Linked DNA regions of Homo sapiens: regions 2, 3 and 4 are each reported to be linked to region 1. The links are microRNA targets in miRTarBase. Many come from high-throughput screens and were not tested one by one. Region 1 holds a microRNA gene; each other region holds the end of a gene's coding sequence.

Evidence for each region. Region 1 holds the annotated microRNA hsa-miR-497-5p (CAGCAGCACACUGUGGUUUGU, at 984-1,004, opposite strand). A microRNA usually pairs through its seed, bases 2 to 8, with sites in the 3' UTR of a target mRNA and lowers its output. Matches are read on the target gene's strand: a 7mer-m8 pairs with bases 2 to 8, a 7mer-A1 pairs with bases 2 to 7 and ends in A, and an 8mer does both.
Region 2: the mRNA of CHIC1 is a reported target of hsa-miR-497-5p. The part of its 3' UTR that is shown has no 7-base or 8-base seed match.
Region 3: miRTarBase lists GSG1 as a target of hsa-miR-497-5p. Seed matches in the 3' UTR shown: 8mer at 1,954-1,961.
Region 4: the mRNA of TLL1 is a reported target of hsa-miR-497-5p. Seed matches in the 3' UTR shown: 7mer-m8 at 1,435-1,441 and 8mer at 1,438-1,445.

The regions. Positions count from the first base shown.
Region 1 is chr17:7,016,996-7,020,078 of GRCh38, forward strand. MIR497 (microRNA 497) reads right to left here and starts at 1,027; the gene lies at 916-1,027. It overlaps BACC1 (BPTF associated chromatin complex component 1), which reads left to right. Exons shown (of 6, transcript NM_174893.4): 5 at 1-19; 6 at 266-525. The coding sequence ends at 270. It overlaps RNASEK-C17orf49 (RNASEK-C17orf49 readthrough), which reads left to right. Exons shown (of 8, transcript NR_037717.1): 7 at 1-19; 8 at 266-529. MIR497HG (mir-497-195 cluster host gene) reads right to left here and starts at 2,659. Exons shown (of 3, transcript NR_038310.1): 1 at 2,383-2,659; 2 at 74-393. It also overlaps MIR195. RefSeq lists enhancers at 1-212, 1,564-1,733.
Region 2 is chrX:73,680,498-73,683,580 of GRCh38, forward strand. CHIC1 (cysteine rich hydrophobic domain 1) reads left to right here. Exons shown (of 6, transcript NM_001039840.4): 6 at 458-3,083. The coding sequence ends at 508. Among named protein-coding and RNA genes, the nearest start is that of CHIC1, 120 kb to the left of the region's middle.
Region 3 is chr12:13,082,061-13,085,143 of GRCh38, forward strand. GSG1 (germ cell associated 1) reads right to left here. Exons shown (of 7, transcript NM_001080555.4): 7 at 1,472-3,083. The coding sequence ends at 2,841. It overlaps FAM234B (family with sequence similarity 234 member B), which reads left to right. Exons shown (of 13, transcript NM_020853.2): 13 at 1-1,389. Among named protein-coding and RNA genes, the nearest start is that of GSG1, 20 kb to the right of the region's middle. RefSeq lists an enhancer at 2,544-3,083.
Region 4 is chr4:166,100,322-166,103,404 of GRCh38, forward strand. TLL1 (tolloid like 1) reads left to right here. Exons shown (of 21, transcript NM_012464.5): 21 at 421-3,083. The coding sequence ends at 555. Among named protein-coding and RNA genes, the nearest start is that of TLL1, 230 kb to the left of the region's middle.

The sequences.
Region 1 (3,083 bases):
AAACTCAACTTCGACCAGGGTAGGAGTCCTCCTCCTCCCACACAGCTGACGGGGTTGGGGAGAAAGGGCTCACCTGGATGGCAGGGCACGGTCTCCGCAGGGGCCCCTCCCTTGTATAGGGGTTTCAGAAGAGAAGGTGCTCTCATACACAGCGCAGGGCATTGGATCAGTACGTAGCAGGGTGTTTCAGGGAGGTGGGAGTGGCCTTGGAAGCACACTGGGGGCTCGCTCCATCTCGGCCCATTTTACTTCCTGTTCCAGACAGCCTGACCCTGGATTCTGGCCTTCTCATGACCTCTGCTGATCCTCCTCTCCTCTCCTGCTGAGCCTTCCACCTCTGACCTCTCACTGTTCATGCCGGACCTGTGGATCTCCTGGGACTCCGAGCAAGGCCTGCACGAGAGAGGGCTGAAAGGCTGCTGGGGCTGCCACCTCGCTATTCCCGCATAAGCATCTGCCCCCAACCCCTTTGACCTTCATCTGATGGACATTTTTATACAGAAAACAATAAAGATTTCCCTCTCAGCTTCGTGCTGTCTGCTTAACATTATTAGCAGGAGAGGCCTGTTCCCTCTTCTCTCCTCGGCCCATGGGGGCTCAGCCCCTCCTCGGTAGTTTTCACCACCCTGCCTGGAGCAGCACAGCCAATATTGGCAGACTCGCTTCCCTGTGCCAATATTTCTGTGCTGCTAGAGCCAGGGAAGCTGGGTGTGGGCAACAAAGACTCCACTTTGTTCTCTTGAGGCAGAACTTACTCCCAGGGTCTCTGGCCATCAGTATTCTTGAAACTGCCCTGGAGATTTTAGAGGGGTGCTTACATACCCCACCCTCTCCTTGCCCACCTGGCAAGAAGTTTGTCACAAGGCCCCAGATGTTTTTTGTGTCACTTCTCCAGGATGGCCTCCCAGGGCCAAGCCTCGGCGGTGCCTCCCCCACCCTCGCTCTAACACCACAGTGTGGTTTGGACGTGGCCACAGTGCCGTACAAACCACAGTGTGCTGCTGGGGCGGGAGCAGGACCGGGGTGGGTTGAAAGGAAGAGAGCACATAGCAGTGCTGGGAAGACCCCAGCACCACCTCCAGGAGCGGGGGGATAGAGAAGCCTTAAAAGGCAAACATGGCCCCCAAAAACGTTTGGGAGGAACCAGGGACGGGCTGAGCAGGCAACTGGAAGGCGACGGACCATGGGGATGAGCTCACAGTGTAGTAAGATTGGACCATCTTCCCTCTGTAGGAACTCAGCTCAGGGGATCCCTAGGGTGGGGTCAGAGGCAGAAGAAATAGGGAATGACTGGAGGGGCCAACACACTGCCTCCTGTCTCAGCAAGGGCAGGGACCCAAGGCTTCCTGTGTCCGTCCTTCCTCTCCCTGGGTCAGAACCCAAGAGAAAAGCAAGGAGAGACAGAGGGCCAAGGCCAGCAGGGTTGGGAGTTGGCAGTCCAGAGGTGGTGGGGCCGGAACATGGTTGGGAGAGGGGGGCCGGAAGTCGCCCTGGGCCCTGGGCCTGCCACAAGATGGAGGCCAAAGGCAGGAAATGGAGACCAGGGGGAAGGGGAGCAGCAGAGCCCAGGAAGAGGGCCATCTGGACCTGGGGGGCCAGGTATTCAACCCCCAGTGCTGTTCCCACTCCCCAGGGCCCCTGAGGACCCGAGCCGGCCCCCACAGCAACCTCCATCAGCCCATCCACCAGGCCAGGGCAGGCGGGCCCACCCCAGAGAGCCACGTTTAAGCTGAGACAAACATGCCTCTCCCCACCCCCAACTCCAGGCCTTCCCTCAGCCCTTTTCTCCTGTCCAGGACTTGATTTTTTAAAAACACCCCTCAGAAAGCAAAATCCAAGGGCCAAAACTCCTTTTGCAAATCAAAATATGACCCCCTAAAATCCAGAAGTTATCTTCCTATATCCCATCGCATCTTTTACCACCCCCTCTTCCGACACACCCCCCAAAACTCTTAGCAATCTGAAAGATCCAAGGTGGTGTATGTAAGCAGTCTTTTTAGGCCCCCGAAGATGCCAGACCCCTCCCGGACACCCCTATCTGCCCTCCATCAAATCTTGCCAAGGCCTCCTGCTCCTCCACCACCCTCCATAGCCCCCAAACTAACAGTTGCCCCCAGCTCCTACCTCGGCAGAGCCTTTGTGGGGGGTGAAAGAGAAATTAAACACTATCCTAACGGCTGGGGATGTTGGGGGGCTCTCTGGTCTCAGCCTTTGGTTTCCGTCTGGGGGGCTGCAGTTTAGGGGTATAAGAGAAAGCCTCTCCAATCATCCCCCCAATTCCAAGACTGACAAAGCCAACCCCACCCCAGCACGCACCTCCAAACCTCCCCCCCAACCGCCACGTCTCTCCTGAAAACAGAGGACACTTCCCTCCCCACTTACCTCAGCTACTCTCCCCTGAGATCCTGGTCCCCTATTTTGAAAAGAGCAAAATTTAGGGTGCATCCCTCACATTTGGGGTGCAGGAGAAAGGAGCCGCCCCAGTCGCATCGCTGGCCTCCTTCCTCTCGGCTGGCTCAGGGACTGGGGAGTGCCCTGGGGAGGGGGCACCCCCACAAGAGATCTCAGGAGGGGTTCCTCCACTCCCAGTCAGAATTGGGGACACCCCCCCAAAACCCGTCCCAGCCCATCCGTCTCCAACTCGGCGGGAGAGGCAGCTGCAATGCCCCAGTCAGATTCACCCAACACTACATTCCTCACCCCATCTAGAGGGGTCCCGGGGTCCCCAAAAAATCCCAAAAAAATCTAGGATGTTGGGAGGACGGTCCTGGACTAGCTCCCCAAATTTGGGGTCCTCAGATACCCCCGTTTTTTCAGGAAAATTCCGTCTTTTGCCTGCCTCCCGCCAGCCCTGCTCTGTCCCGATGCCAATTTTGGAAGTCACTCCCTCCTTCCTCCTCCCCGTCTCTCCAGGCCCCCCCCACCGCTCGGGGGCTAGGGTCCAGGACACCTGGCTTCCAGACCGGGGGGAATCACTCCTCAAAGGGCTAGGGGCCAGGAGGTCAAGCTCATTGCCCCTGTCTTAAGGAAGCAGGAAAGCCCGTTCCTCCCTTCCCCTCCCCCCTGGCTGGTCACCGTGGTGG
Region 2 (3,083 bases), not on the chromosome of region 1:
TTTTTCACAACTTGTGAACGATAGTAATCTCCAACTAATATCAGTTTCTTTAATTGAAAAATATATAAATCTAATATAAAGGCATTTTTTAATCTGTATAGCATTTTTTTAATCTCTACTTTGCTAACAAAGAGATAGGGGTGTGGGGGAAAAACATAATATAATTTAATGGAGTTTGCTCCTGTTAACCTAGACAAATAGTTATTGTAAATCAGATAGTAAAATCTGTTAGCTACAATAAGTAGTTTTGTTTGCCAGCTTAATTTTTAAATTGCCAATCTAATAACAACTTGTGGTTTAAGTTCTTTACATATTTTTTTCATGTATTTCACTTACTTTATATGGTTCAGGATTGAAATATTGTCCTATGAAAAATGATTATAGACTTTCTGGGTTATTTATAAGTTATATTAAATGAAAAATATTTTGTAAATATATTCTTGTTTTTATTTTGCAGGTAATACTAATAGAATTCTTACCAAAATATCCCATATTCCGACCTGACTGAGGAGTTTTATCCAGTCACTTCTGTGTTACCTGTCATTTCCTACCCTTAGTGCCTTGTAGATTTGGAATGAAGATGGTCTCCTTTGCTGTGTTCAACTTATTCTTTATAATGGTAGAATATTCTTCTCGCTCTTTTGTGTTGGTTTATGAAGAAAATTTGCACATCTTTTTTGTCTTTCAATGAGGCTTGTGTTTTGCACTCTCAATTTTAAATACACACACATGCGTGTGTGCATATACATATATAGATAGTTGCCATTAAAGATAAATCATCAGTGTTGGTGTTTAAAAAACAAAAACTTGTTCTGAGCATGCTGCCTTATAATTTTCATACTCATTGTTTCTAAACTCGCATCATTTTTCTAGGCTACTTGATGCTCTGTAATCCCTTACTGGACAAACTTAAATAAGCTTTTGGTAGCTTTTAGAAATGGTTTTACTCTGCTTTTAAAGGACATGCTTTTAAAGGACATGCAATTAATGGCACTGGTTTTGTCCTGCACTTTGCTTTATCACTTATGTTAGTGGATAAAATATTTAAACTCCTAAAGACTTGTAAATATTGCCTCTTTGCATAATGTAAAATGTGGTATGCCATGGTTTACATAATGTAACATTACTCTTATTGTATTGCCAACAATTTTACATAGATTTTAATATGAATGAAGTTTGCAAGCATCCCTTTGAATGTAGAAACTGCTAACATGCTGTTTTATGGCAAGGCCATAATGAGTATGTTAAGAATTTCAGGTGTAGGGCAAGGTTGCCCTTTGTAACAAGTGGACTAAAATTGAAATTATTATCTCAGATATTCTGTATTGCACCTGAAACCATGACCTTTATTTTTCCATTTCGTTTAATAATTTCCATTTTGTTGTCTACTCCTTCCCACAAAAAAACTATTTGACATCTGACACATTTCACAGTCTCACTATCCTGCATTTATTAGCCTTTTCTTCCTTTGAAAATACACACAATTATGACTTTTAAGGAGTATTTTGAGATTTCAGACATCTTCAGAAGGTATCTAGACCCTCTTGAAAGCCACTAACACCTTTCTGCAGTTCTGATATTCTAGTTTGAGAAAGAGAGAGAACTATTTGAGAAGCTGTAGCTAAAGAGTATATAGCAGCTGATTCATAATTGAAAAAAAATTCTCAATTCTGTTTTTGATGATCCTTTATAAAACATTAATGAGGAAAGACAAGTGTTTAGACAAAAGTATTTTAGTTTATAAATTCAGCACATATGTAACATTTATTTGGTCCATATTTCTCTATTTTTCTTCACAATTAAAATGATTGCTAGCACCACACAACTAGAATTTGAAAATTCAGTATAATGAAAGCTTTATATCACATTAATTCAACTGCAAATGTATGCCTGTTTGTAGGCATTATTTGTAATTCATAGTGCTAAAAATAAAAGTGTCTAGGGCTCAGTAATATTTTGTCATCTTACTCTTACTGCTTTTAGTAAACCTTTTAGGCAAGATTCATCTCAGTGAAGTGAACAATCATTTCTTCATAGAAGGTCAAGCCTTTTTAAGCCACTCTTAAAATTTATGCCTAATTTGAAATCCACAGTCCTTGACCAGTTTAAAAAAGAGAGGAAAAAGAAGACACTATTTTATATGTGATTATAATTGTTTGCACAAACACTTTTCCACCTTCCTCTGTGCCCCATTACCTCTGTGCCACTCAGTCACCCCAAATCTCTAACCTTTAGTAATGTGTATGCCTGCAAATATTATGTGTTTGCCTGCTGCAAAATTGAAGGTGTATTTTTATAGACAAGGTAGAAGCCTCTGAAAATGTATACCAAATGTCTTGTTTTGTAGCTAAGGTCGGGAAAAATTGTATCTGAGGTTTATGTTCCAGCTAATGTTATCAAATTTATGCTTCAAACTGTGATATTTTAATACCAAAATCGATTTTCAGCATAATACAAAATATCTCATTTTCACTGATAGAAAATTGCTTTTAAGTGTTGATCCTTAGAAATCTTATTTTTTTCTATAACCTTAGAATTTGATCATATGATGGTCATAGGAACTTTTTCTGCCATGTATAAATCACACTTGGTTTTGCTCAAAGAACAGCATGAAGTGGTGAATTGTTTCCATGAAACAATTATTGAGAATGGGAATACAGTATATCTGGAAATGACACAGTATAATACAAGTTACAGTAGCATTTGTCACAAAAACCACTTGTCAGCATGTGTAAACTTAATTTTAAAGCCTATTCTAATCACTCGAGTTTATTATTTTATTGTTCGCTATGCTGGTTGACTCATCTTAGTTTCTTCAACTACCCAAAAAAATACCAATTTTTTTCCTCTCTTGTATGACTACTTTTTCAAACTGTTTTCCTTTGCAGGGGGCTGATTAGCAATTGAGTATTTTGTAATGTTTGGGCGGGGTTGCTTTGTTTTCAGTGAAATTGGTTGCAGTGAATGCTAAAATGACACAGCACACTGGTGATTAATTCCTCCCCCATGGAGCCTTTTTTCTGTTATGCTTAGGATAGAACATACTTGTAATTTTCCATTAGGTTAGTAACATACTTTTGTGA
Region 3 (3,083 bases), not on the chromosome of region 1:
CGATTCTCCAGCCTTAGCCTCCCAAGTAGCTGGGACTACAGGTGCCCGCTACCATGCCTGGCTAATTTTTTTTTTTGTATTTTTAGTAGAGACGGGGTTTCACCATGTTGGCCAGGCTGGTCACGAACTCCTGACCTCAGATAATCCACCTGCTTCTGCCTCCCAAAGTGCTGGGATTACAGGCGTGAGCCACCATGCCCGGCTGGGCTTGTATCTTTTAGCTTGTGTTAGTAAAAGGATTCTAGAAAATTATGAAGTCCAGATTCAAAGGGATCTCTGTTAATTACCCACTGACAGGCATTATGACCTAACAGGAGGTTGGTAGCAGTAGATCCAAGCATGCATGTTGCCTGGCCTGTAGATTGGCCTTATCAGGTTTCTGGGTGCCTCTGCCTTAAGATCCTGAAGGCAAATTTTGTTTCAACAGTTTGGAAGTCATCTGTGGGTCCAGCTTGACTTTGGAGGAATAAGAAGATACTTCTAGAGTATGGGAATGATTCCAGATAATTTCTGGGATTTGAATCTACTTGAGTTTAAGGGCCTGGGACCTAATTTGGTTTAGTATAGAATTTGAAGAATTAATTTATAGGCAGCTGAATACCCAAAACTTGGGTGGTGGTCCTGTGGTTTGGCTGAGCTGTCCGGGCATAACCTGGTTCTCTGTTATGTTAAGGCTTTCTGGGAAGCCAGCCACTCTGCGCAGGAGTGAAACATGAAGTTGTTTTCTGAGGACCTGTTTTGGTGGGATTGTTTGGGCAGAGGACTGTGTTTATGCAGGGCAAATCCCAGAAAGATAAGAGGAAGCTAGAGAAACTTAATGTACCTGAATTCTTCATGGTGTATTTGCAAACTAACTTAACATAGATTCTTTTGACTATGGTAAGTTTGAATCTCTCCTTGCCAAACAACATTATAAGTTTAGTTTTCTTCTTCCTCTTGCAGCCGGTACAGAAAGGTGTAAGTGGTGGCTGAAAATTGAGGAAGCTTCATCTGACCAATGTGGGTGCTGGTTTCTTGTGAAATGTGTCCCTAAGCCTCCTTCTCCTTGCAGGCAGCCACCCACCCAGGTGTCTAAGATAGGACATGCTCCTTTCTTTCTCTAATCCCATCCTGAGGTTGCCGGCAAAGCCAATATGACCACTACTGAGAAATAGTAATGACTTCTACAAATGCAAGGGTCTTACCCTCCTCTTTCCCTTAAACACCCTCCCTTTTCCTTAGACCCCGTTTTTGCCATCCCCCAAATGTGTGGTATGGTGAAACTAATCCCCTGAATGTGAATTGCTATCCTTATTGCCCTATTAAAGAAGAGCCAGCTGGTATATTGTCAGGAAGCACTATTTAAAATGTGAACTGTTATAGAGTAAATAAATAAATACTCTACAGGAATACACTTGTGTGCCATTCTCATTCGTCTTAGTCATCAAGGATGGTTTGTTTCCCCATATGGAAAAGAGAACGGGCAAGTAGATGGGTGGCATTCTTTTTTTTTTTTTTTTAAGTTCTAGGGTACATGTGCACAACGTGCAGATTTGTTACATATGTATACATGTGCCATGTTGGTGTGCTGCACCCATTAACTCGTCATTTACGTTAGTATATCTCCTAATGCTATCCCTCCCCCCTCCCCCCACCCCATGACAGGCCCGGTGTGTGATGTTCCCCACCCTGTGTCCAAGTGTTTTTATTGTTCAATTCCCACCTGTGAGTGAGAATATGCAGTGTTTGGTTTTCTATCCTTGCGATAGTTTGCTCAGAATGATGGTTTCCAGCTTCATCCATGTCCCTACAAAGGGCATAAACTCATCCTTCTTTATGGCTGCATAGTATTCCATGGTGTATATGTGCCACATTTTCTTAATCCAGTCTATCACTGATGGACATTTGGGTTGGTTCCAAGTCTTTGCTATTATAAATAGTGCCGTAATAAACATATGTGTGCATGTGTCTTTATAGCAGCATGATTTGTAATCCTTTGGGTATCTACCCAGTAATGGGATGGCTGGGTCAAATGGTATTTCTAGGTCTAGATTCTTGAGGAATCAGATGGGTGGCATTCTTTATGAAGGAAATAATAGGGTACATTTCTCAGAAGGGATGAAAAGGTGGGATCCAGAGAGGAGCCTATGCCCCCTTGTTCACTGGGAAGTCCCTGGTGTGACTGTCCAGAAGGGAACCACAGTCCAATCTGAATAGCCTTGGTGGGCTATTTCTAGAAGTGACCCTGACCCTGTGTGCTGTTGGCGCCTTCTCATGTTAAACCACTCTCCTAAGGGCTCCTGGGACAATATTTAATAACACTTTTACTGGGTACCTACTGTGTGGATGCAGGACACTGTCCCAGGCAGTGTGGAGGACTTCTGTGCTATATGACAAAGCACTCAGGGGCGCTTCTGTCTTCCCATCTGTGACTTCCAGAACAATTCGCGCGTACCATGGAAAGTTGAGCCACAGTCACACTACCGTTAATTTGCTCACCTCCATTTCTCCAATTTCCAGACCAATAACTAGATGTATCAGATCCTTAAGGTCGGGAAGTGTATTTTACTCTTCTTTTTATCTCCATGGTTTAGCCCAGAACCTGGCACAGAAACTATCAGTAAAGAAGGGAATTCTGGATGTGTGAGATGTGGGGTGGGTGAAACAAGATGGAGCTGTAGAGGAAAAGAGAGCAGTGGCACCCAGGAATCCCTTAGGACTTAAAGATAACCCTTATTCATAGCCTTATTCGTAGCCTCTAAAAACCATGCTCAAGAGACGGATGTTGGCTTAAGCACATGTTGATAATCAGCAGACGTGTAAGGTAGGGCTCAAGCCTACTCCCCAAACCCGCTTAACTCCTAACACTGCTCTTCCTCTACAGATGACCTAACTGCTTCTTTCAGCTCCTGGCTGGCCCCTCTTTGAAATCCCTTGTTCCGCAGCTCGGAGTAGAAGTCGACTCCCTCAGAGACAGAGTGGATGGGCTGATTATGATACTGGTGGTAGCTGGTCAAAGGACCCACGGTGGGGGCTGCACTTGACAGCCGCCGAGGGAAACACTGATGGTGATGTGGTAGGCAGTTCGGGTTTTCCTTGAAGCT
Region 4 (3,083 bases), not on the chromosome of region 1:
CAATTTGGATTTTGGAAGTGGCTCTGCTCCAGAGCAGCTTCTGAAACACATTTAGTATCTCTTTACACTCTCTGAACCTCACTTTACTGATTTGTAAATCAAGAGAACTTGGCTTAAAAGTTTAGGGAAAAACACTCAAGTTCTAGAGAGAAAAGTGCCCAGAACTTAGAAAATGTAACGTATGTTCAGAGCTCAGCTACATCACCGACTAGTCGCGTGAGCTCTAGCATGTCATTTTCTTCTCCGAATCCCATTTTCTCCTCTATAAAGTGAAGAAGTTGATTACACCTACTCTCCAAGGTTGTTGGGAGGATTAAATTATATTCCAAAGACAAGTATTCCCAAACATGCGTTACACTGAAGAAAAAGTGATTCGTTTTATTGCTTGTTTACTTGCTTGTTGTTTTTGTTTTCCTTCAGCCACCAGAAGAGATTTATTCAATTGGAGATTCAGTTTTAATTCATTTCCACACTGATGACACAATCAACAAGAAGGGATTTCATATAAGATACAAAAGCATAAGATATCCAGATACCACACATACCAAAAAATAACACCAAAACCTCTGTCAGAACACAAAGGAATGTGCATAATGGAGAGAAGACATATTTTTTTTAAAACTGAAGATATTGGCACAAATGTTTTATACAAAGAGTTTGAACAAAAAATCCCTGTAAGACCAGAATTATCTTTGTACTAAAAGAGAAGTTTCCAGCAAAACCCTCATCAGCATTACAAGGATATTTGAACTCCATGCTTGATGGTATTAATAAAGCTGGTGAAAGGGCATCATATACTTCAAGGAAGACTCTACAAGCTTTTGTTCACAGCTTGAAATAGATGCCTCACAATTCAGACAGTTTAATTCAGGAACTGTGACCCTGCAGTGTTCTTTTTGACAATTTGTCAAGATTTAGGGACATAAAATGATCTTGCAGGTCGTAAACTGGAAAACAGTATTTTGGTTGTCTTAGGATAATTGCTGACTTTGTATCTTGGATACAGTGTAAACCAGATCCATATAAGGTGAATGTGAAATGGGAGTCTTCTGAGGGTGATTTGTACTTTCCATGTGTATGTGTGTGTCTGGTGTTTGGAAACTGGGATATTTCAGCTTCATTATTTCCACTTGCAGGCCAGCTTAACCTCTGAAACACAAATGATCTTGAGACCACTTTAGTGTACTTACATTTAGATGAGTTTGAAATCTCAATGGTGTCTAATTATTGCAGTTAAATTCTAGACATCAGTTCTTTAAGTCTCAGAAAACGCCCAGTGAATTGGTAAACTTAGTTCTTTTTTTTGGAAGTGCTGCCTTTTCACACCAAATCCAAGAAGCCTGTGATGTCTTATGAACCTTATGAGAAAACTCCGAAGAGGTGTGAGCAGGATTCTTCTGAATGACTGTCTGGATGGTTCATTACTCAAGTTACTGCTGCTGCTATTGTCTTTCCTTTGTTGTCGATCTGTTATTGTTGTATTATTATTGTTGATGTTGTCATGGTTAATCTATTTTTTAAAATTGAAATGAAGCAGAAGTAGGCCTTGTGAGAACTGAAAGGTCTCTTTCATTTTTCTCTTCCTGGGATTCATTTTTTCAAAACACAATGCTGGAAAAAAAAGATTTGTTTCTGAAAGACTTCTTATGGTGCTATTCCATAAACTTTTTTTCAAACAAGTTTTTGACCTTTGAGCCAACCCACCCGTAGACTACGAATGTCTCCCTATGGCTGGTAGCATTTGAAGACTAAAGACTTGTCAAATATATCAAGAGTATATCATTGCAAGGGCAGCACTTGTCCTGTGGAACAACTACTTATAATGCCTTAGAATTCCTGCACATGATCAAACAGATCCTCCTAAAACACACCTTTTGAAATGTTGAACATAATAGTGTATGTTAATTAACAGCTCTATGAAGAAAATCCATTTCCATGACTGAAGCATTGGATATAAATATGGTGTCCTGCTTTTTTTGTAGAAAATGTAATTTGAGGATGAATTTTCTGCTTTAAAGGCATGTGTGTTTTTAAAATTAATGAATGTAGATGTGTGATTGTCTGAGTGAGTGAAACTACAAGAGGTAAAAAATAATGGGTGGTTGAAAAGTTAAAATGTATGTGCCAAGTTCTACTAGAATTCCATTTGAAATAGCACCTTCCTTAGGTTTCATGGACAAATAATGGGAACTTCTAATTTTGATCAATCCCATTAAAAAAAGGCTCTTTCCTTTAGAGAAACTCTATTTTGATGTCAATATAGATTACTGTATGAAGTAGCTTTGTGTCTGTTACCTGTCCATGAGCATACAACATTGAATACAATTGGGTGTATTCTTTCAGTTTTACACAATTAAAGTATACACACAGATGTAGCTTATCTGTTTTTTTCTTAAATTGTTGCCCTGAAAAAATTTCTTGCATATGAATTGTAAAATGTAAATACATTTTTATAACCAATGTTTTGATCTTATTGAATGTTACTTTGAAAATGTATAACTATTGCCTGCAATGTAGATGAGCCTTTTAGTAGAGCTGATTTATTCCAGTAACTTCTTCCATATTTTCTCACTAATCTCCCGTTAGCCAAAATATGCCAGAAATGGGAAAGAGAGGAGAAAAAGTCATTAACATTAACACCTATACTGTTCTATACTACTCCTACCCGTGTGCTAGGAATGTGCACTAGCTCTTTTTAAATTCCATGCTACACTTTGAGGACTGTCATCATGTTCTCGTTTTGTAGTTCAGAAAGTGAGGCTCAAAGAATTTATGTAACCTTCCCAGAGTCACAGTGTAAAGTTAGATGTTGAAACCCAGTTTATCTTATACAAATGAGCCTCTGCTTGTTCTACAAAGGTAGTAGAATCAATCTCGACCTATATAAATAGTAGATTTTTTATGGTGAAACTTTCCCACATAAAGTAAATTTTAGGGGTGAATTAGAGTAAAACTTACAGGATAAGCATTTTGCTCTTTTTAAGAACAGCATGAAATTTAGAATACCAATGATAGCTATCTTTAAGAATCAGAATTAGTACTAGAAATTTAAAAAACCCTATAGTTTGGAGTTAGTATGAGCC